Linked DNA regions of Homo sapiens: regions 1, 2, 3, 4, 6 and 7 are each reported to be linked to region 5. The links are microRNA targets in miRTarBase. Many come from high-throughput screens and were not tested one by one. Region 5 holds a microRNA gene; each other region holds the end of a gene's coding sequence.

Evidence for each region. The annotated mature microRNA hsa-miR-183-5p reads UAUGGCACUGGUAGAAUUCACU and lies in region 5 at 1,692-1,713, shown strand. An mRNA with a match to its seed (bases 2 to 7 or 8) in the 3' UTR can be bound and repressed. Matches are read on the target gene's strand: a 7mer-m8 pairs with bases 2 to 8, a 7mer-A1 pairs with bases 2 to 7 and ends in A, and an 8mer does both.
Region 1: miRTarBase lists ZNF616 as a target of hsa-miR-183-5p. The part of its 3' UTR that is shown has no 7-base or 8-base seed match.
Region 2: the mRNA of TRIT1 is a reported target of hsa-miR-183-5p. The part of its 3' UTR that is shown has no 7-base or 8-base seed match.
Region 3: miRTarBase lists CCDC142 as a target of hsa-miR-183-5p. Seed matches in the 3' UTR shown: 7mer-m8 at 1,911-1,917.
Region 4: miRTarBase lists KCTD15 as a target of hsa-miR-183-5p. Seed matches in the 3' UTR shown: 7mer-A1 at 1,861-1,867.
Region 6: the mRNA of CTDSPL is a reported target of hsa-miR-183-5p. Seed matches in the 3' UTR shown: 7mer-A1 at 1,653-1,659 and 7mer-m8 at 1,000-1,006.
Region 7: the mRNA of ACP6 is a reported target of hsa-miR-183-5p. Seed matches in the 3' UTR shown: 7mer-m8 at 2,897-2,903.

The regions. Positions count from the first base shown.
Region 1 is chr19:52,112,194-52,115,274 of GRCh38, forward strand. ZNF616 (zinc finger protein 616) reads right to left here. Exons shown (of 4, transcript NM_178523.5): 4 at 898-3,081. The coding sequence ends at 2,625. Among named protein-coding and RNA genes, the nearest start is that of ZNF841, 18 kb to the left of the region's middle.
Region 2 is chr1:39,838,888-39,841,968 of GRCh38, reverse strand. TRIT1 (tRNA isopentenyltransferase 1) reads left to right here. Exons shown (of 11, transcript NM_017646.6): 11 at 56-3,081. The coding sequence ends at 225. Among named protein-coding and RNA genes, the nearest start is that of LINC02811, 23 kb to the right of the region's middle.
Region 3 is chr2:74,471,919-74,474,999 of GRCh38, forward strand. CCDC142 (coiled-coil domain containing 142) reads right to left here. Exons shown (of 9, transcript NM_001365575.2): 8 at 2,998-3,081; 9 at 914-2,884. The coding sequence ends at 2,628. It overlaps MRPL53 (mitochondrial ribosomal protein L53), which reads right to left and starts at 762. Exons shown (of 3, transcript NM_053050.5): 1 at 651-762; 2 at 440-552; 3 at 64-334. The coding sequence starts at 742. The coding sequence ends at 201. RefSeq lists enhancers at 171-300, 701-800.
Region 4 is chr19:33,812,357-33,815,437 of GRCh38, forward strand. It overlaps KCTD15 (potassium channel tetramerization domain containing 15), which reads left to right. Exons shown (of 7, transcript NM_001129994.2): 7 at 434-3,081. The coding sequence ends at 592. Among named protein-coding and RNA genes, the nearest start is that of KCTD15, 17 kb to the left of the region's middle.
Region 5 is chr7:129,773,599-129,776,679 of GRCh38, reverse strand. MIR183 (microRNA 183) reads left to right here and starts at 1,666; the gene lies at 1,666-1,775. It overlaps MIR96 (microRNA 96), which reads left to right and starts at 1,911; the gene lies at 1,911-1,988. RefSeq lists an enhancer at 2,586-3,081.
Region 6 is chr3:37,980,284-37,983,364 of GRCh38, reverse strand. CTDSPL (CTD small phosphatase like) reads right to left here. Exons shown (of 8, transcript NM_001008392.2): 8 at 1-2,623. The coding sequence ends at 2,498. Among named protein-coding and RNA genes, the nearest start is that of VILL, 9.0 kb to the left of the region's middle.
Region 7 is chr1:147,644,856-147,647,936 of GRCh38, reverse strand. ACP6 (acid phosphatase 6, lysophosphatidic) reads left to right here. Exons shown (of 10, transcript NM_016361.5): 10 at 371-3,081. The coding sequence ends at 514. Among named protein-coding and RNA genes, the nearest start is that of ACP6, 24 kb to the left of the region's middle.

The DNA of each region.
Region 1 (3,081 bases), not on the chromosome of region 5:
AAATACTTCAATGTGAATCTGGCCTGTGACCATGCTATTCTGATTCTTTTGATTAAATTCTCCTCTCTGATAACTGCTGTCTTCCACTTCCAAGAATAAGACTAATTTTACATTTATCTTTGCTATATAACAGCTGTCATTCAATGGAGATGATCATCATTTCCTCTGCATTATTTCTCCCACACAATCCATCCCTAGTAACCTATCACTTGCCTCTCATGAATACCCTTAATATTCCATCAATGTCCTCACTGGTATTTCAGTCAGTTGGTTGTGCAATTATTTTCTACAACCCAAAGTGGCACTCTACGTGTTCATGGACACCTGGAACACAAGCACAACTTACATCATAAACTTACATTATTCTCCCAGTTACTCCATGGTGTGTAACTCACAGAATATTGAATTTTAAAATTCAGTGACCTTAATCTTCAGGAAGCATGGAAATGAAGGAGCCACACTGAATGAAGGAGGCTCTCTCATCTTGTTGATTCATTCCCAGATACCACAATGAAGGATATGTAAGGAAGATGATAGACTTCAAACCTTAGGATAAACGTCATAGTCTAGTAGCTATTTTAAGAAACGCCCCATTGGCCAGGTGTGGTGGCTCATGCCTGTAATCTCAGCAACGTGTGAGGCCAAGGTGGCAAATCACTTGAGGCCAGGAGCTTGAGATCAGCCTGGCAAACATGGTAAAACACCATCTCTACAAAAAAATATAAAAATTATCTGGACATGGTGGCATGACTGTAATCCCAGCTACTTGGGAGGCTGAGGCACAAATTGCTTGAAACCAGGATGTGGAAGTTACAGTGAGGTGAACTGGTGCCACTGCACTACAGCATGGGGAACAGAGCAAGACTGTCACAAAAGAAAAAAAACAGAAACCTCAAATTTAATGTAATATTTTATAAACTGAATGAGCCATTTTCACACATGCACTTGCTCCTTTAAAATACATACTGTCCTGAGTTTTAACAAATGTTGTCTGGTAGTTATTCTGTAATAATATTCCAGGCCAATCTTGGAGAAGCAGATTTGGTTATCCCTAGTATGATTTCAAAGATGTGTAGTCTGTTTAAAAAACTGGTTGAAATTTGTGCCACATTGATTACATTTCCAAGTTTTCTCTCAAGTAGGGATAATTTGGTAAAGGCTGAAGACACACTACTGCTTCCAGGTCCTTTCATGTTCAGCATACTTACAGGATTTTTCTCCTTTATACGTTCAATCAAACTGCAAAGGCGTGGACATTGGTTTTGTCTCACTTTAAGTTCTGGGTACATGTGCACAATTTGCAAATTTGTTACATAGGAAAATGTGTGCCATGGTGGTTTGCTGCATCTACCAACCCATCACCTGGTATTAAGGCAAAAATGCATTAGCTATTTGTCCTGATGCTCCACTTCCCTGCCCTTCCCACCCCCATCAGCAGGCCCCAGTGTGTGTTGCTCCCCTCCCTGGGTATATGTGTTCTCATTGTTCAGCTTCCACTTTTAAGTGAGAACATGTGCTGTTTGATTTTCTGTTCCTGTGTTAGTTTCCTGAGGATAATGGCTTCCAGCTCCATCCACATCGCTGCAATGGACATGATCTCATTCCTTTCTATGGCTGCATAGTATCCCATGGTGTATATGTACCACATTTTCTTTATTCAGTCTATCACTGATAAGCATTTGGGTTGATTCCAGGTCTTTGAACATTTCATTTTTTAAAACCATTTATTTGGAAGGTTGTCTCTAGTATGAATACTCTTTCCATTTTGATGTTCGGGTAAAAACCTTAGCATGCACATTACATTTCTGTGGTTCCTCTCAAAGATGTATATTCTGATGCCTAGTGAGTTCCAATGCCTGGGGAAAGCCTCTGACACATACATTTATATGATTTCCTTTCAGTATAAACTCTCTTATGACAAGTAGTGATTGAACTCTAGTAAAGGTTTTGCCACCCTCATTTCATTTCATACATCTATGCCCTTTTAATTACCTAGATTTACAAGTTCTGGCTTTTGAGTAGAATTCTTGCCACACGTATTACACTTCTGTGATTTTTCTCCAGGATGTATACATCCTGGAATATATATACAAATTCTTACACCTAGTGAGTAGTGAATACTAGCTTAAAACTTAGGTATATTTACTGCATGTGTAAATGTATTAGGTCATAACTGCATTGCTACAAAAAAAAACCTGAGGCTGGCTAATGTATAAAGAAAAGAGTTTAATTGGCTCATATTTCTGAAGGCTTAAATGAAAACATGGTGCTGGCATCTGATCACCCTCTAGGGAAGCCTCAGGAAGGTTAAAATCATGGTGGAAGGCAAAGCGGGTGTCGGTATTTCACATGGTGAGAATGAGGGCAAGCGACAGGGAAGTGCTATGCACTTCTAAACAGCCAGACCTCAAGAGAAGTCACTATTGCCAGGACAGCACCAAGGGGATGACGCTACATCTTTCTCAGTTTGAGAAATCCACTTCCATGATTCAATCACCTCCCAATGGGCCCCACCTCCAATACTGGAGATTACAATTCCACAGGGATTTCAAGAGAAGGGGTAAATATACAAGGTATATCAGTAAGTAGGAATTATTCGGTGATTCCAGAAACTAGGACAACGTCTAAGGCCTTGTCACATTGAGTTTAGTTGTAAGGCTCTCTCCAGTATGTCTTATTCGATGTTTAGTGAGGCCTGAGCGACAAATAAAAGATTTCCCACACTCATTACATTTATAAGGTTTTTTGCCAGAATGAATTCTTTGGTGTTTGCTGAGGGAAAACAACCGCCCAAAGGCTTTGCCACATTCAATACATTTGTATCTTTTCTCTCCAGTGTGGATTCTCTGGTGACTTACAAGATGTGAACTATGCCTGAATACCTTGCCACATTCATCACATTTATATGGTTTCTTTCCTGCATGAATTATCTGATGTGCAGTGAGGTTTGAGCTCCGTTTAAAGGTTTTGCCACACTCATTACATTTGTAAGGTCTGTCTCCAGTATGAACAGTCTGATGAAGTCTAAGATGGACACGCTGACTAAAGGAATTCCCACACTGATTGCATTTGTAAGGTTTC
Region 2 (3,081 bases), not on the chromosome of region 5:
CTAGAAAATTCCTAATGAGTTTTTTTGTTTGTTTGGTTTGATTTTGTCTTATCAGCGCACATAAAATCCAAATCCCACTTGAACCAACTGAAGAAAAGAAGAAGATTGGACTCAGATGCTGTCAACACCATAGAAAGTCAGAGTGTTTCCCCAGACCATAACAAAGAACCTAAAGAGAAGGGATCCCCAGGGCAGAATGATCAAGAGCTGAAATGCAGCGTTTAAGAGACATGTCCAGTGGCCTTTGGAAAGGTGGTGGGGATCCAGTTCAGGAGGGAGGGGTATGTTTGTCTCCCAGTCTGGGCAAAGGAGTGCTATGCGGAATTCTCTGCATAGCAGAAAAGCTCCCACCATTTTCTTTTGATGTGGTTTTAAAGTCTCACGTTCTCTATAATAGAAACAGCAGGTCTTGTCAGCTCCTTGTGTGGCTGATGTGTCTGGAAATGATGTAGTTCAGGAAAGCATTTTTTTTTTCTTTGAACCTTAAAGGTTCTATTATTAAAAGCAGCACAGATTCCACATTTTTATACATGAGGATCTTCTTTGTGGTGAATACCAGGATTGACTGCATCCCTTTAAAGAAGTTTTATGTCCCTGACTCTGGCTAAAATTATCTAATTTCCAGATGCTTTTGTAGATGACTGAAGTATTTGTGAGCCACATATTGGGAGTTCTAGATTTGAGTGAATGGCAGGAAAGGGCCATCTCCATTGAGATGATTAAGTGAACCAAACTAGTTCTCAGAATTCTACAGAGAAGGAGGGAATCAGACTGAGGAAGCTGTGACATAGGACTTGAAGACCAAAGACTTTGAAATTTGCGAGCTGCTCATGTGTGAGTTATTATCACTGCTGTCTTTCTATTGAGTTACAAATCTATATTTTTATTGAAGTTTAAATAAAGAAAAAATTTACAAGAGCCTCTTTGATCCTTAAAAAGATATACAAGTCCATGCCTAGTTTATACACAGTATGCTCTGTTATCAATGTGATAGCTTTTTCTCAAATTTGACACTTTTTGTAGATCATGCTGTCTGTTCATTTATGTAGCGGGTGTTTATTTAACACGTTATAGTCCTTGAAGACATCTAGAGAGGGTCTTTTATTGGAGATCTATTACTTCCAATTGAAGCCCTCTTTCTGGAGTGACCTGAGCTGCCAGCAATGTTAAACAGATACTTATTTATATATAACATCAAATATAGCATTTTTAGGGTATAATTCAGCAGCATTAACTACATTCACAATGTTGTGCAATCGTTGCCACTATTTCCAAAACGTTTTTGTCACTCCAAACAAACTTTGTGCCCTTTAAGCGTTAACTCCCCATTCAAATACATTTTGTTTGTGCAGAATCTACTCTATGAGAGGCCCTGAATTAGGCTAAAGGGAATGCAGAGATGAGATGTGGTTCTTGCCTTCAGGGAGCTTATAAATAATTGCATGTGTACACAAACACCAATCCAGGCAAGACAGTATCAAAGGCCGTAAGAGCTGTGTAGAATTTCAGTTTAGAAGGAAGGGAAGGGATCATGGAAGGAGGAGCATTTCTGCTGCACCTTGAAAAGCAATTCTTGATAAATGTTTTGTTTCCTATGCATATAAGACTTCATAGAGGAGAAGGTAGAGTAAAAAAACTATCTAACTTGATTGACCTTTTTAAACAGTGCTGAATTCCAGAGCCTCACCCACTTTTAACTGATTTGAATCTCAAAAATAAATTTATTCTCTGGGCAAAGAAGTTTATTAACTACTTTAGGACCTAACAAGGTGGGAAGCCACATCTTCCCGGTGGGAGTGGAGATGAGTACTTACTGTGAGCCAAGCAGTGCCAAGTCGTTTTTATATGTTATCTTCTCACACAGCCCTGGGAGGGAGATGCTGTTTCCTTTGCTGTTAACCAGGGAGGAAACTAAGGCTCAGCAATGGAGTACAGCTAGCAAGCGGTAGAGCTGGAATTGAGGTGAGGCTGGTAGACTCAAGCTATTAAGCACTGTGTTAAGCTGGCAGTTTGTAGGGAAGAACCTTTAGTTTCTCTGAAATATTCTTCGTTCAAGTTGCTAAGTATGTTTTAAAGCCTAAAAAGGTTTCAGTAGACAAGCAGGAAAAACTAGTTTTAATAATTGTACGTCAAAAAGCTTTTAATCCTTCCATCTGAAATACCTGGAGCAGTAACTTCTCATTGAACTCATTGTTATCTCTATGGCAATTGGAAATCAGGCCTTTTTTACCAAAAAAAAAGTGTCTAATATTTATGAAGCACTTACTAAGTGTAAGGCAGTGTGGTTGAGCCCACTGTTCATATTCTTAGAAATTGTAAATTCAGCCAAATGAAATTCCTTTATCAGCAGCAAAGAGCCTGGGAAAGGCAGAACACTCACTAGAAATCTGCCTGGTGCTCTGGTCTGAAGCATTGCCCTGAGTAGATTTCCCCTTTTGTGCCTGCTCCCCTATGAATGACTTCGCTGTTGAGTGTAGGGAAGGAAAGTAATTTGTCTTGTGGTGGTCGTAAATGTAGAGATGAAAGAATTCTTTATCTCTTGTATGGATGGGGAAACTGAGGCCTAAAACATGGATGTTCCAGTCACAGAGCAAGGCAAAGCTGGGACAAACCTTAGATCACCTTTCTTACTCTATTACTAAATCTCATACCAAATCTCATTTGAGAGCTGAAAAGTACCATAGAGCTTTGGGCTATTTGCTCAGCCTGGAGTGAGAATGAGGAATGCCATTTTGTACCATCTGGCCATAGCAATCCCAAGGCAAGCAGAGCCCTCCAGTCCAGGTATCCAGAGCCTCCAGTCCATCACACCAGCAGTGCTATCTAAATGGCTTTGGCAATTAATTCCAATACTCAGTGAGCTATTAGGTTCATCTGCTTCTGTCAGTAAAAATCTTGATTAGGCTTTAGATACTTCTCACAGTTCAGGCAGTGCTGTTGTAAGTGGGTAGAAAGTACTTTGATTCTGAAGAGAGATCTAGACTTGAAAATACTTTGCTTGATTCTTAGGGCTAAGCAAGAGAACAGCTCATCTGTATTCCAGGAATATGGCTTGATCCTTCCTAACTCTCAGTAATTTTT
Region 3 (3,081 bases), not on the chromosome of region 5:
AGAAAGTGAAATAAATTCAGGTTCATCCAGACACCTCTCTGATCTAGTCTTGTTCCAGAAACATTGTGGTAGCAGGGTTTTAAACTTTATTTTGCGCTCCGTGACCCTTCAGATAGTGATTTGAATGATTAAGTGAAACTCTTCTTAGGTTAAGTGTCCTAGTCCACGCTAAAATCATCTTGTTGGTCTCTTTGGCGCTGTCAGCGACCAGTATCAGCGCCCGGCTTGTCCCCGCTGCCCGCCGCGTCCCTGGCCCGGATGTGGGAGGCGAAGGCGGTGAGCATTTCCAGAGCGGTGAGATGAGCGCCGCGCATAATCAGGCGATGCCCGTCTCCTGGGGAAGAAACAAACGAGTGAGACAGGGAGGGACCGCAGTGCTGGGGCTTAGGGGCGCGCGGGCTGCTCGCTGTTCCCTCCTGCCCGTCTCCACCAAGCCCACCGAACAGCACGTCCACGCAGGGCTCGGAGCCGTCATGCCTCACGTCCGCAATCACTGAGCAGTTGAGATTAGTGGAGCGGACCTTCTCACTGCTCACCGTCTGCAGGAAGGTCCTACGGTGGAAAAACAGAGGAGCGCCAAGCTGAGGGCTTAAAGCCCCGGCTGAAGGAAGGCGCACCACTTCCCGCTTCTACCCACTTCCCCTTCGTACCTCGTCGATTCCACGTTTTTCTCGAAGGGACAGAACTGAACCCGAACCTGTTTGACAGGCCGCAGACCAAGCCGAGCCAAGGCAGCTGCCATGGTGACCTCCGCCCCGGAAGAACTCGTGCAGGCGGAAGTGTCGCATTGCGTGAGGCCGTGAATGGCTGCGCTTCTGCGGGATAGACTTCCGGCCGCCGGCTGCTTAGCAGGCCTGCGAACCGCAGCTCTGGGCTTCCTAGCCCAGGCGGAGGAAGGCAGGAAAGAAAGAGGTGGTTTCGGCACAACGCATGGGGGAGCCCAAAGTAGGCTGTCAGCAAATACAGCCTATCATGAATAGTCCTCTCATACGACGGTGAAAACCATAAATAAATGGCGCAAAAACCTCTTTGCACGAAAATACGCCCGTTTTCTGCAGCCTTTCCCCTTCTGTACCCTGCTGGGCCACATCTAGGCTAACTCGATCTTAAATCCTGGCTTCTTCCAAAGAGAGAGCACTAACACAAGCCGGGATGATCCACACCAGAAGGTAAACACCATTCAGGTAACTGAAGATTAAACGTAGTGAGCTCTGAATAGCCAAAGCTTAAACGTGAAAGTACTACAGCCCAATATTAGTAAATGACTGAAAATAGTAATAGGAAGGGCAGTACAGGGTAATACTGTCCTTGGGGCTGATCCAGGTATAGAAATGCCTATTAAACCTCTGTGGTTCTCCATGAATTAGCGTAGCTCCCAGGACTTAAGTTGAAGTGCATTCTAGCCAGTTTTCTTTTTTTGAGACGAAGTTTTGCTCTTGTTGCCCAGGCAGGAGTGCAGTGGCGCGATCTCGGCTCACTGCAATCTCTGCCTCCCGGGTTCAAGCGATTCTCATGCCTCAGCCTCCTGAGTAGCTGGGACTACAGGCGCGTGCCACCACGCCCGGCTAATTTTTTGTATTTTTAGTAGAGGCGGGGTTTCACCGCGTTAGCCAGGATGGTCTTGATCGGACCTCGTGATCCGCCCCTCTAGGCCTCCCAAAGTGCTGGGATTACAGGCGTGAGCAGGCGTGAGCCCCCTCACCTGGCCGAGCACTCAACTCTTTATCCCTGAGATATCTTCAGTGATGGAGAACTAGGCCTGAACCTCCCAAGGGTCTGACCTTCAGGTTCCAGGCTATGGTCTTGCTCTTTACTCTGGATTCCAGGTGCTGGAGTGATCTTGGATTTTTTTTTTTTTTTTTTTTTTTTTTGAGACGAAGTTTTGCCCTTGTTGCCCAGGCTGGAGTGCAATGGCACAATCTCGGCTCTCCGCAACCTTCGCCTCCTAGGTTCAAGCGATTCTCCTGCCTCAGCCTCCTGAGTAGCTGGGATTACAGGCATGCGCCACCACACCTGGCTAATTTTGTATTTTTAGTAGAGACGGGGTTTCTCCATGTTGGTCAGGCTGGTCTGGAACTCCCGACCTCAGGTGATCCGCCTGCCTCAGCCTCCCAAAGTGCTGGGATTATAGGTGTGAGCCACCATGCCCTGCCTAATCTTGGATTTTTTTTTTTTTTTTTTTTGAGACAGAGTCTTGCTCTGTCACCCAGGCTGGAGTGCTGTGGCTGGATCTCAGCTCACTGCAAGCTCCGCCTCCCAGGTTCACACCATTCTCCTGCCTCAGCCTCCCGAGTAGCTGGGACTACAGGCACCCGCCACCACGCCCGGCTAATTTTTTGTATTTTTAGTGGAAACAGGGTTTCACCGTGTTAGCCAGGATGGTCTTGATCTCCTGACCTCATGATCCGCCTGCCTCGGTCTCCCAAAGTGCTGGATTACAGGCGTGAGCCACCTCGCCCAGCCCCTAATCTTGGATTCTTAAGCCCAGGCTCTTTGTAGCTTATTCTCCAGTATGCTTTCCTCCAAGCTTCCAGTTCTGGGCTTCCTTAATATGCAATTCCAAATGTCTGGATTTTCCAGCTAGAGATGGGGAGCTCTTAACTTTCTGGCTCCTGGTCCCAGGCTCCTTAGGATTCAGGACTGGTTCCCAGGCAGGAAAAAAACGGCAGGTGCCAACGGGGTCGCTGGTGTTGCCTGAGGGCAAGCCAGGCCTGCTGATTTCCCACCAGGTAGCCCTCCGGGCTAGGTCCCCTTCCTCCTAGTGTGCTTTGCAGCTGACCTGTCTGGGCTGGAGATGTTCCAGGCTGGAGCGGGGGCTCCAAGCTCTCCAGGCTATTGAGGCAGCTGCTGGGCAATTTCGTGGTCTGGACCTCCTGACAAGCACCTGGTAAGGCAGGAGTGGAAGGTAGGTGGCTGCTGGGGATATACTGAAGCCAGATTAATGGTGAGAATAGGGTTTGGGACACACAAAGCAGTGAGCGAAGGGGAGTAACTCACAGCAACAGGGGGGCCTCCTGTGGACTTGAGACTTGGGCAGGGGCTGCTGCAACAGACACAGCAGGGCCCCATCCAGCTGCTGGA
Region 4 (3,081 bases), not on the chromosome of region 5:
GGAAGCTGGTGGATGCCTAGAGGCTGAAGGACAGGGAACTCTCCATTATTGGGGCAGGACTCAGGGAGGACACTTGGGGCCATGTGTCTGGAGAGAGGGCATAGGTTACACCCTACAGAATAAAGAAGGGACCCAAAGCCTCTTTTTGCCTCCCGGAATCAAGGCCCTGAGGGCAGCAGGATGGTGGCCTGGGTGGGGTCGTCCAACTAGGTTTGCTAACCTGAGGGGTCACTGGGCCTGGCCACTTCTGTCCCTCTGGTGGTGGAACCCAGCACGTGGTTCTGTAGGGACCTTTGTCAGTGAGCAAGACTGAGATCGTCACAGGAGAAGGTGCCCTTGCTGGCTGCCCCAGCAGGCACCCACCTCCCTGCCAGGCCAAGCCAGGTGTCCTCTTGCAGCTTGGCCTTGATGACCTCTGTTTCTTCCTGGGCAGGTCCTGGAGCGGCTGTTCCAGAGGGGTTTCAGCGTGGCTGCGTCCTGTGGGGGCGGTGTGGACTCCTCCCAGTTCAGCGAGTATGTGCTTTGCCGGGAGGAGCGGCGGCCGCAGCCCACCCCCACTGCTGTTCGAATCAAGCAGGAACCCCTGGACTAGGCCCTGCTTCAGTGCCCACCTGGGCCCCCCCAGGGACCTGGAAACAGTGCTGGGGAGTTCTGCCTGTGTATACTTGGCCGTGGGCATGAGACCGAGGGTGAGGCTGGAGGGTCCAAAGCTGGCCCAGCGAGCACCAGGGTCCCAGGTGTCATGGCAACAGAACGTGGGATGCTGGAGGCATGCCTGCAGAAGGACTGTTGATGCGACCCAAAGATACAGCGGTGGGATCTCTGCTGCCAGCTCTCCCAGCCCCTCAGCTTCGCAGCCTGGCGCAGCATCCTCTGAGGCCCCGGGGCCTGTTGGGGCGGGGTTGGAAGAGCCGTCTGCAGCTACTTCAGAGGAGCTGTTTATCCCTCTCCACGCGGGGCAGACTCTGGCGGGTCTCCTAGCGTCCGAGAGATGGCTTATTTTCTACAGTATTTAAAATGGATGCAGCCCTAACTGCAAAAGTCAGAGAGGCTGACAAGGACCAATGCTTCTTTATCTGGTGCTCAGTTCTCAGTCAGACGTGCAGCATGGCTGCAGGGTGGACCAGCTGCCTGGCATTCAGGCCCAGATGCCTGCAGGGCTGGGGCTCTCGGGACAGATGCAGGGATGTGTGCTGCAGGGCTGCTGGGAGGAGAGTGGTGGGGGCCTGAGGGCTGAGTGATTCTGTAACCACCTGAGACCTTCACGTTTGCTGCCGTTGGGGGCTCAGGCTGCACTCCCCGGGTCACCTGACCTGCTGCCCAGGGGCTTCCAGTCCTGTCTGTGTGGACTGGCACCTGGGCTGCTGGAGAAGTCTCCTCCCGTTCGGACCAGCCTCAGGGCTGCACGTTACCTCAGGAATGGGCCCCACCATGAAGGGGCCCATCTGTCAGCAGCGTCTTCTAGGTCCCCAGCTCAGGGAGCCATCCCCAGCTCCAGTTTTCTCATGCGAATATGCACAGTTTTAATTCACGTTGTTACACTAGCCTGCCGATGAGACCCAGACACAGGCAGACCTGGCGCTCTTGACCCCTGATTCCAGTGAGGACTGGCCCTGAGGAGTCCTTGCAGACCTGCTGCCTCCCCCACGACAGGCCCAAAGATGGACCCCCCCTGGCCTTGTGACAGCTCCCCAAGTGTTCTCCGGTGGAGAAACTGCAGAGGACTGGTGGGCGGGGCTCCCCAGCCATCACCATCCTGTGTACAATGGCTGTAGACTTGTATATGGCTCCTTTAATATTGTAAAGATGCTGATGTACAATTGTCGTGCATTTGTGTGAACACATTGCGTTCCCAGTCCATGCCATAAATGATGCTCTCAAGCAAAAGACTGGAGGCTCTGTCCTGTGCAGAAGCAGCAGCCAGACTCCCGCATTCGATGTTGTGCAGGGAGGTTTGGGGGCGGAACGGATTCCTCCCTTGGATCCTTCAGTTCCCATCGAGGAATAACCCGCAGCAGTGGTGGAGGAAGGTCAGTGGCTGGGTCCTGAGCTTGGTGTTATTTATTGCATTTGGGTGCCTGTCCCCTCAGGGCAGCACAGATTCTGAATTCTGATTCACAGTCCCTAGCCAGATGGGAACTGGGAAAGAGACAGAAGGCGTCTGGGTGCTTTTGAACCCTGTCTCAAATGTTTGGGATTTTCTCTCTCACTATTCTTTGGTTGGGGATGATGTCCTCTTTAGACCCCCACGTAATGGTATGAGAAGGTGGCAGGCAGTGGCTCAGCCAGCCAGGGGGCACCAAGTCATGCAGCCAGCGTGAGACCTGCAGTTCACCTAAGCACAGAACGAGATCTCAGTATGCCTCCATGTAAACAGATTCACATAGGCCTCCAATTTCAATGAGACCTTTTGCATTTTTTCTCAAAGCCCTTATGTTCTAACCCATGAGAACCATTTTACCTGCCCTCTAAGGGCCACCAGCTTCGACCTGCCTCAGGGGACAGCAGCACAGACCAGTGGCTCCCTGTCCAAGGCCGCAGAGCAGACGCCATCCCACTGTACAATCGAATTTGCTGGACAAACTTGATAGGTTTCTCTGCTTAGCAACGAGCCTATAGTTAGTTGGCACATCTGCGTTTTGGCATCTGAGGCTCCCATCTGAGTGGAGGAGAAAGTGTTGTGTTTATTAGCAGGAAGTCTTGTGAAAACAGCTCGCTGCTGTGTATGTTTATGGATTTTTCTGATATAACAGCCAGCATGGTTACCGAGTGGTAGAGATTCTCGAACATTCTCAAACTCTCTTTTTGGGTAAATGATTGTGCTAAAAATAAAATTTATTAATAAAGAAGGGGAAAAAGGAGTAACTCTACCTGACTAAATGTTACTCTAATTTATTTATTTCTTTACTAATTAAGTAAAACCAGGAAGTATGATTTTACATCAACCAGAGAATTTCTGAATTTATAGGGAAACACTATGTCCCCATAATGATGCTATAATTCTAATATATCTAGTCCCCATAAACAGTAAGTACAAATTATCATTCCTTTAAAGCATTTTTACACTTCCTGGAATGAGTA
Region 5 (3,081 bases):
TAATTATCCCAGGGTGAGGCTTCTTGGGAAAGATTTCTCAAAATAGATCTTCCCACCCCCACCCCCACCCCATGCTGAGCTGTCAGGGTGCTATTAAAATGCAGATTTCCAGGCAGGCTCAAGAATCTACATTTCAACAGGCTCCTTGGGTGATGCTTATGGCTACACCCTAAGCAATGTTCATAACTACCCACCCCATACTCTTTGCTAACACCCTGCCATCACCCCTTCCCCTCCCCACCCAAGGCTGGGAAGTCTGGTCTCTCTTCCTTAGTAGAGTTCAGAAAATTGTAGTAAGGGAAACTGAGGCAGAAGGCTGAGGAGTGACTTCCTGAGATCACCACCTCATCAAGCTGGATTGTCCTCTGGGGAGATAGACCAGCTAGAAGGGCAGAGCCCTGTAGTGGGGGTGTGTGGGAGCAGGACAAAGAGTCCTCGGGAGCAGGAAGGGTGGAGCATTAAGCAGTGTCTAGGGGAGAGCGGATGGCTTTGGCCAAGGTACCCAGATGGAGCTCTGAGGTCCACGGGAGGTAGTTCCTGGGGGTAACATCGCCAAGAGGTCTGCATAGTTTCTGGGCCAGGGCACCTGCTCTGACCCTTCCAGGATATTTTCTAGCCACCCTGCCTTCTGGGCCACCGCTGACCTGGAGTAGGCTGAGACTCTAGTGGCCACTCTGCGGAGGCCCCAGCTTGCCTGCCCTGGGTGCCAGCTCCCCAGAGACCCTCCCTCCCACCCTCTCCCTTCTTCCCGTCCTTCCCCAGGGCCTGTGACACCAGAGGCAGGGCCTCCACAGCAACTTCTCTCTAGGCAGCTGCTCTGGCAACCACTGATGCAACCTTCCCAGCCCCTCCCTCGCTCCTGAGCCTCCGCTTTCCTCCGCAGTCACTCCAGAGCCAGCCAGGAGCCACTCCCTTGCTAGAGTGCATCCGTGCCTCCGGCTCCCTCCAAGCCACCTGGGTGGCTGCAGGACTTCTCTTCTGCCCTCCTTTCCTGGCCTTTTCCTGCCTTGATCCTAGGCCGGCAGCAGAGATGCCCAGCCTGGGCGGTTCACAGTCTGGCCCAATCTGGTCTGGTTTGGGATGGGAGTGGGGGTGAGCAGCAGATTCGGTTTGTTCCTGGGGCTCTGTTTCTGCCACAGGGCAGGCTGGGGGGTGGAGGATAATGGAGACCAAAGTGCCTAGGAGCCTGGGCTGCTGGTGTCTGGGCTCAGAGGCTACGAGAGGCATCTTGGATGTCCCACTGGTCACTGCCCCTGTGGCAGGTTGGGTAGAGAGGAGGCTCTGGCCAGCTGCTTGCCTCTCCGAGCCAGAGTTACTCTGGCAAGGAGATGGATGGTCCTGACCCACTCCCTCCCCAGCCTGGAGGCGCAGTCTGGGTGATGTGGAGGGATGTGGGCCTTCAGGTGGAGATAGGAGACACCTTGGTGTGGTCTTCTCCTCTGCAAGGCCAGAAGGTCAGCTCCTCTCCCGCACTGTCCCTGTCTCCTTGAAGGTCATCTTGGGCTGATGGGGCATGTGGATCTTGTGAAGAGGTGGGATGGGGTGGGGGGTAGAGACCGTAGCAGCCGCTGCTGAGGGCCTGCTGGGGGGCCCCCAAGGGAGTGGGCAGGCTAGGAGCAGGGAACGGGCATCGTGGGCCGCTGGTCTCTCCGCAGGGTCGGCAGGCCGCAGAGTGTGACTCCTGTTCTGTGTATGGCACTGGTAGAATTCACTGTGAACAGTCTCAGTCAGTGAATTACCGAAGGGCCATAAACAGAGCAGAGACAGATCCACGAGGGCCTCCGGAGCACCTTACCCACTTCTGCCTTGAGTGCTCCTAGACGTCGGAAACAGGCTGCTTCCAAGGGTGCAGGGATGCAAGGCCCCTCGTCCAGTGTGTCCCCAGAGAGCCCGCACCAGTGCCATCTGCTTGGCCGATTTTGGCACTAGCACATTTTTGCTTGTGTCTCTCCGCTCTGAGCAATCATGTGCAGTGCCAATATGGGAAAAGCAGGACCCGCAGCTGCGTCCGCCTCCCCTGCATCCTTGTGTCAGGGCCCCAGCCTGCTCCTCCTCAAGGCCTCCTCACCGCCTCCCCAGCCCATCTGGCTCAGCTGCTGTGTGAGGGCCCAGCGCTGGTGGGCAGCCAGATCGCCTTACACTGCCTGGGGCCACGGTAGAGCTGGGAGCCCAGCAATCTGAGCTGGGCCAGCAGATGGGGCCGCCCAGGGCAGAGGTGGGGGAGTCTGAAACCATCTGTAGGGCCATCCTGAATGGTGCCGTGGGTTGGAAAGGCCCAGCCAGGCTCCCAGCACACGCTTGGGGTGAGACCTTGGCTGGCAGCACAGGGCCTGGTCTTTTCTGCTGCAGGTTGTGAAGGGGGCAGCTCCAGGCAGGTGGGCTGCCCTTGAGGTCAGCCTGGGTGTTTCCAGGGGGGCTACCGTCTCTGGAGCTGTAGCCTGCTGTGGAGTGGGTCATCTCCGAACAGCTCCAAGAGGAGGATACTTAGTGGGGCTCGGAGTTGGAGGGCATTTTCAGGCCTGCCCCTAGAAGGTTCTGGAGCAGAGGCCAATGTTCCCCTTCACACACCACACACTGGTAATGTAGCTTCCTGGGTCCCTGGATCTGGGCTATGACTAACTGGCCTATGCTCTCCATCTGGGTGTCAGGTGACATTACATATATAATCCCAACAGTTCCCACCTCAGCCCTGTGGGGCTTGTAATTTTTTAAAATAGTTATCTCATAGATGGGGAACCTGAGGCTTTGAGAGGAAAGGCTTGGCTGAAGAGGTTGGTGAGTGGTAGAGCTGGGTCACTGTGGCTCTTCCGCCACCAGCCACACCTTCCATGGAGGCACCCAGGGCCTGGAGGTGTCTCAGCTCTGAATCTACAGGCCTGGGCTCCCAAGGATGCCCCAGATGGCAGAGACTGAGGCTGGGAGGCCTGGACCTAGTCTGTCAAAGCTGGGGAGAGCCTGGCCAGCCAGGCTGGACCCATGTGAAATCTGGTGGTCAGCAATCAAGCAGGAGACCAGTGGCCGACTTGGGACCAGCTGGGAGCTATCATGCCCCAGGTCACTGGGCCAGCCCCTGATGGGGCT
Region 6 (3,081 bases), not on the chromosome of region 5:
CTTATGTTAGAATTCTATTGCTTCATTTACATGTAGATGATTAAAAATATATAGATATAGATATAGATATAGATATAGATATTTTGATTATGTACATAAAGCAGATTCAAGGGTTAAAATAAAAACAGAATTTTGGAGTGTGGTCAAATAAGGTGCACAGATTCCAGAACCCTCAGAGGGCCTGCTGGCCCTCTCCAGACATTCTGTGTCCGTGGTGCAGGAGCTGGGCCCGTCCCTAACAGCTCCGCACTGGCTTAGTGCAGTGGTGCTCACAGTTTCAGGAACTACTAGGTGAAGTGTCTGGCTCAAGTCTGCCAAGTGTCTTCACTCCATCGTCAGAAGTGGAGCACTATCCCTAGGTTCGATTCCCATGAAATATTTTATGATTTCCATCCTCTTTGCCCGCTCTTCCAAATAAGGCCCTGTGATGCCAACGAAGGGGGCATGGTTGAGGGTCTAAGGCTCTCATTAGGGCCTAATTCTGTGTGGATATCAACACATGACAGACACTTGACTGCAACATTCAAGACATTTAAGGCAGTGGGTTCATTTAATGACTACTTTTCCAAATAAATATTTGTGGCATGGGCAGTTCTACCATGTAACTGTCATTATCTGTGGTAATATCTAGCAAGGGGCTGTTCTATTTGAATTGGCATGTGGATTACTGGTTTGGAACACTCAGAATGCTGGGAGACCTGTTTACCCCCTGAATACTTACTTCCCTTCTGAATATTCACACAGCAGTCCACAGACCAAAGTGCTGTTGGGAGGATGTAATTGGCAGCTGGCTTCATTACTTTGTGAATGAAAGCAAAACAAAGATATTTTACTTTGACCCCCGATTTCCAGTCTTGTTAATGCCAGTCACTCCCACCAGAATGCTGGCTGAAGACCAACCCACAGAGGACTAAGGCAATGGTGCCAATATGAAAGGGTTCTTTTTAATTGTTTTTAAGAGCAATACTTTACAGACTGTCTTGTTGTCAAACAAGGAACATGGCACTGCTTAAACACCAAACTGGGAAAGGCTGCAAAGAGAGCCTGGGCTCTCCCTGTGGGAGCTCTTCCTCTCCCTGGTTTGGGGCAATGAGTCCCACATCTAGACAGGCTTCCCCAACCCTTGGCTCAGAAATAGGCTGTGCTTCAAAGGAGAAGACCAAGAGATGGACTTGGGCCACATCAGCTTGGTGGCTGGTTGAGGCCACAGGTTCTCAAGAGAGAACAGTCAGCTTATTTATCAAACAGGATCTGATACTGACTGCAGTTTAAAATCCATGCTACACCTAAGTGGTGCTGTGGTCCTTTTGCCTTTGTACCCTTCAGTGGCCAATGCCAGGAAGGGGTTACAGGTGGTGGAGGCTGCAATGGGATGGGACACCTCTGTTTCTGACCCTGTCCGAGTTTGTAGCTTAGCAGTGAGCATATTCTGAGCATAGGCACAGTGGCAAAGAACAGTGTAACAGCCGCTGGTCAATTCCATTTGGTGGCAGCGCGGTAGCAGCAAGGAAAATTCCCAAACAGCTCCATGTGTATCCAGCTTTTGGAAAGGAAAGATTTAAAAATCAATAAACAGATTTCTTTTATATCCAAGGGTTTTAGGGTTTCTTGTAACTGCTCTACCCAAACAATAACAACAAAAAACACAAATGTATGGCAGTAGTGTGAGAGCAGAAGTGACAGGATGTCACTTTTCAAGGAGAAAATGTGACCTCAAGACAAACTTGTCACCATCAGAAATAATAATATAAAATAATCTATTGTTTCCTAAAGTGTTGAGCCACACAATTGCAGATACATTCCAAACTGGGTCAAAAATGAGTGGAGACAATGACATAGTCATGAAATCCTCCTATCAGGAGCCTGACCCTGCAGCATGCCACAGGTTGTCAGAGCAGTCACACCTGTTGGGGGACAGGCTCCTGTGACTCACTCCCCTCCCTCAGCACCCCCCGCCACACACACACACGCTACCAGGTTCTAGAAAATTGTCATGTTCATCTTCTTATAGTATCTAAGACAATAAAAGACTAAAAGATGTCTGGAAATATGTTGTGTAGAAAAATTAACTCTCGGCTTAAAATAACATTCAAAAGGCACTTCATCCTGTAGGAAAGAGATTCTGAGTTGGGTCAGCTGCTCTGAGCTGGGATAGAAGGGGACAGGTGGTCTGCTTGGAGGGGAGGACAGTTGAAAGGAAGTCTGATAGAGATCAAGCTTTTTTTTTTTTTTTTTCTATTTTTTTCTTTTTTGGTATGTTTTAAGAAAAGCAAACCCAGTAAAATGCATGTCCCTTTATGAAATTTCTTAAAAGAGTTCTTTTAAAATAGTTGTTTCTGTTCTTAAAAAAACAAAACAGGTAGGCATGGCCACATTCACCCTGTGGCCTGGAGCACGGAGTATCCTCACTTTCAGCTCCCAGGGAGCTGAGGACAGGCAGGTCCCCTGAGGCCAGAGGTTCCAGAGTGCACAGGCGGGAGGCAGGCAGAGGCCAGGGCTACCTATTGCAGAGTCTGTGCAGCATGCTGTACACGTCGTCCTCCCGGCTCAGGCCCTCAAAGAAGGGGATGAGGTCCAGCAGCTCCGTGTCCGTCATGTCATCGAACCAGGACTGCACAGGCACCTGGAAGACAGTGCATGGAGGAGGCAGCAGGACTGCATCTAGCGCTGGGGGCTGCTCCTAACCTAACCGGGTACCCGGACTTTGAGCACTTTCTTTAGTAAGGACGACTGGTGTCATCATCGTTATCATCATGATTTTGTTTGTTCCCTTGTTCAAATTGAGGCCAATCCAAAGCTAAATGGCTTGGGAGATGGCTCAGGGAGGCAAAGTTAAATGTACCCAGTTTGTGTGCATTTGCCTGTTTTGTTTTCCTGCCACAGAAAAAGGTGGCCAGAGCATAGAATGTATGAGAACTAGCCTTGCTACTTGCCAACTTCCAAAAGCTCTTTCTACTGCACAAGATCGGTTCCTTGCACCTCAGAACACTTGGAGCCAGAGCTTACAAGCCAACCACTGACAGCGCGGAGCTCACATCCAGGACACAGGAAGGCTTCCACTTAGGGTCACTGTGCAATATT
Region 7 (3,081 bases), not on the chromosome of region 5:
ATTGTTGGTGGTATCTTTGGGAGGTGATGTGTGCTGCTGTTAGCACCCGTGGTGTTGGCTGCTTCATCAGGGCTGGGGTCCAGGGCAGAGGCCAGAGCACGCCCCAGGGATGAGCCTGTTGGTTCTCCCAGCTCGGGGATGTAACTCGACTCTTTCTTCCCAGTCAATTCAACACTTTTTGAGTGACTTTTACAAGCAGAGCATAGTGCTTTTATTCTGGAAGCTCACCGGGTAGTGGGGCCTTCCTGTCTGTAATATGTATGCACATGTATACCACATGGATCAGAGCCTCTCAGATCTCTGGGCTTAGCTGGAAATAGCAGAAGGACAGGTTCCTCGGCGGACCTGCTGAGTTATGTTTCTTCTGCAGGAGCAGGTGCCGAGAGGTTGCCCTGATGGGCTCTGCCCGCTGGACATGTTCTTGAATGCCATGTCAGTTTATACCTTAAGCCCAGAAAAATACCACGCACTCTGCTCTCAAACTCAGGTGATGGAAGTTGGAAATGAAGAGTAACTGATTTATAAAAGCAGGATGTGTTGATTTTAAAATAAAGTGCCTTTATACAATGCCTCCTGCTTTGTGTGTTTGGGAAGAGGAGAGAGCAAGGGGTAATGTACTTTAATATAATGTAAGGATATTTCCTTTCTGTGGGTTTACTAAGATTTCTTCCTGAACGGAAAAGGGGTATAATATTGAGACCAAAAGGATATTTCTCTATTTTGTGAGTTGGTTTCTAAGGTTAGAAGCATCTTTGTGTGACACGGGCTGGGGACATCATGACCCTGTAGAATTGTGTCGGTTTTGGACTTTAGTTCTTTTCTCCTATATTAATTTCACATGTATTGAGCTACCTACTAAGTAGTGATCATTATAAAGGTGAAAACACTCTGCCCTCAAGTTGTTGCAGTCCAGTGGGAGAGGCAGCCGAGTAAATCAGTGATACAGTGCTGTATGTTTTATGCTGTAATAGGTATTTGAGGGGCTATTTGGGTATAGAGAAGAAACTTCCTGCTCACATGGCAGGGGATGTGGGGAACAGTCAAGGAAGGCTTCTGAAAAAGTCCTGGCCTGATCTGAGTAGAGAAAGGTGGGTAGGAGTTAACCAGGAAAGCAAGGATGAAAGCGTGTTGCGTTTAGATAAAGGATAGGCTTCAAGGTCAGGGAACGTTGCTGGGTGGTGAGATGGAACCCTGATGTGGAGGCTCAGCAGGAAGAAGCAGGAAGGACACTGGGCCCCTGGTGGTTTTAGTTCCAGAAACAAATGTGGGCCCCAGGGCTCTGCAATGGTAAGGCTGGAACTACTCAACATAAGAGCTCCACCTTTAACTGTGCCCCCTAAGAGTACCTGATGATCCCCCTATCTCCTTGTCAATGTTGCTGTTCTTCTCCAGAATCTATTTCAACCCTTCTCTGATTTCAAACCACCAGTCCCTTTACCTCTCAGAGAAAACAGCAACCACAAAAGCCTCTCCACTTCCTACTATCTTAATATTGACAACTTCCAGATCAGGGAGCTGAGATATCTCAAGCTCAGGTTTCTCTTCTGAGCTTCAGACACTTTTATCCACTTGGATTTCACTGGCACAAAACTTTCCATGTTAGAATCAAACCCCCCTCCTCCCAGACCTGCTTCTCCCACACACTTCCCTATCTGAATGAAAGACACCTCCACTCTCCACCCAGTTGCCAAATCAGAAATCTGTCTTTGTTTTCTTTGTCTCACATTTTCCTATGTCTAATCAGTTAAGTTTTATCAATACTACCTGTTTATTTCTTTAATCTATTCACATATCTTTATCCTCAATCTTCAGCATCCCCTTCCCATCCTCAGTCTGCTGGTTACTGTATTTCCTATTTTACTAAGAATCTAAAAGAGATCAGAAGAAAACTTCCACATCCCCCAACACCCAACCACCAAATCTGCTAACCCAGTTGCATTGGTGCTTTTATAGCCTTCCTTCCTCCCTCTTACTAAGAATGAACCAACACTATTCCTATCAAAGCCCAACCCTCTAGCTTTACATTGACTCCTAGTGTCTTTTTTCTGGATTGTCAATTTTTTTCCTGACCAATTATTCTATTAGCAATACAAATATGCTGTAAAATCTCTTAAACTTTTTTCTCTGCATCTTTGAACTGCTGTTCTCTTTTCCTTCTCCCCTTCATAGCAGAACTCCTCAAAAGAGTTGCTACCTCTAATTCTTCCCTTCCAGTTCTCTCATGAACCAGCTACAATTAAGTATTCACCCCCACCACTCCATGGAAACTGCTCTTGTCAAAATCATCAATAGCCTTTGTGTGGTGAATCCAATAGCCAGTTTTCATTCTTCTTACTAAGCTTCTCATCAGTATTCCTAGACTATTTCCTTCACTGGCTTCGACAAATGCTTTCTTGGTTTTCCTCCAATTTCTCGACTTTGTTCCTGCTGAATCTACCTTTTTCTAATCCGTAAGTGTTGGGGTGTCCCAGGGCTTACTCCTTGGACCTTTTTTCCACCTTTTCCCCTACACTCACCCACTAGGTGATCTCAAGAATTTCCAGTTTGAGGCCGGGCGCGGTGGCTCACGCCTGTAATCCCAGCACTTTGGGAGGCCAAGGCAGGCAGATCACCTGAGGCCAGGAGTTCGAGACCAGCCTGGCCAACATGGCAAAACCCTGTCTCCACTAAACCTGCCTCTACTAAAAATACAAAAATTATTATATTTTTATAAAATTATTATAATTTTATAAAATTATTATATTTATGGAGTACAATGTGATGTAATCCCAGCTACTCGGAAGGCTGTATGTGTCTATTTATGGAGTACAATGTGCCTGTAATCCCAGCTACTTGGGAGGCTGAGGCAGGAGAATCACTTCAACCTAGGAGGCAGAGGTTGTGCTGAGCCAAGATCGTGCCATTGCACTCCAGCCTGGGCAACAAGAGAGAAATAACATCTCAAAAAAAAAAAAAGAATTTCCAGTTTTAAATATTTACACAATGTCTCCTAAATTTATACCTTCAACCTAGACCTTTCCCTGTGAATCCCAGTCTCATTTCCAACAGTCTAATCAATGTCTCTATTTGGATGTTTAAGAT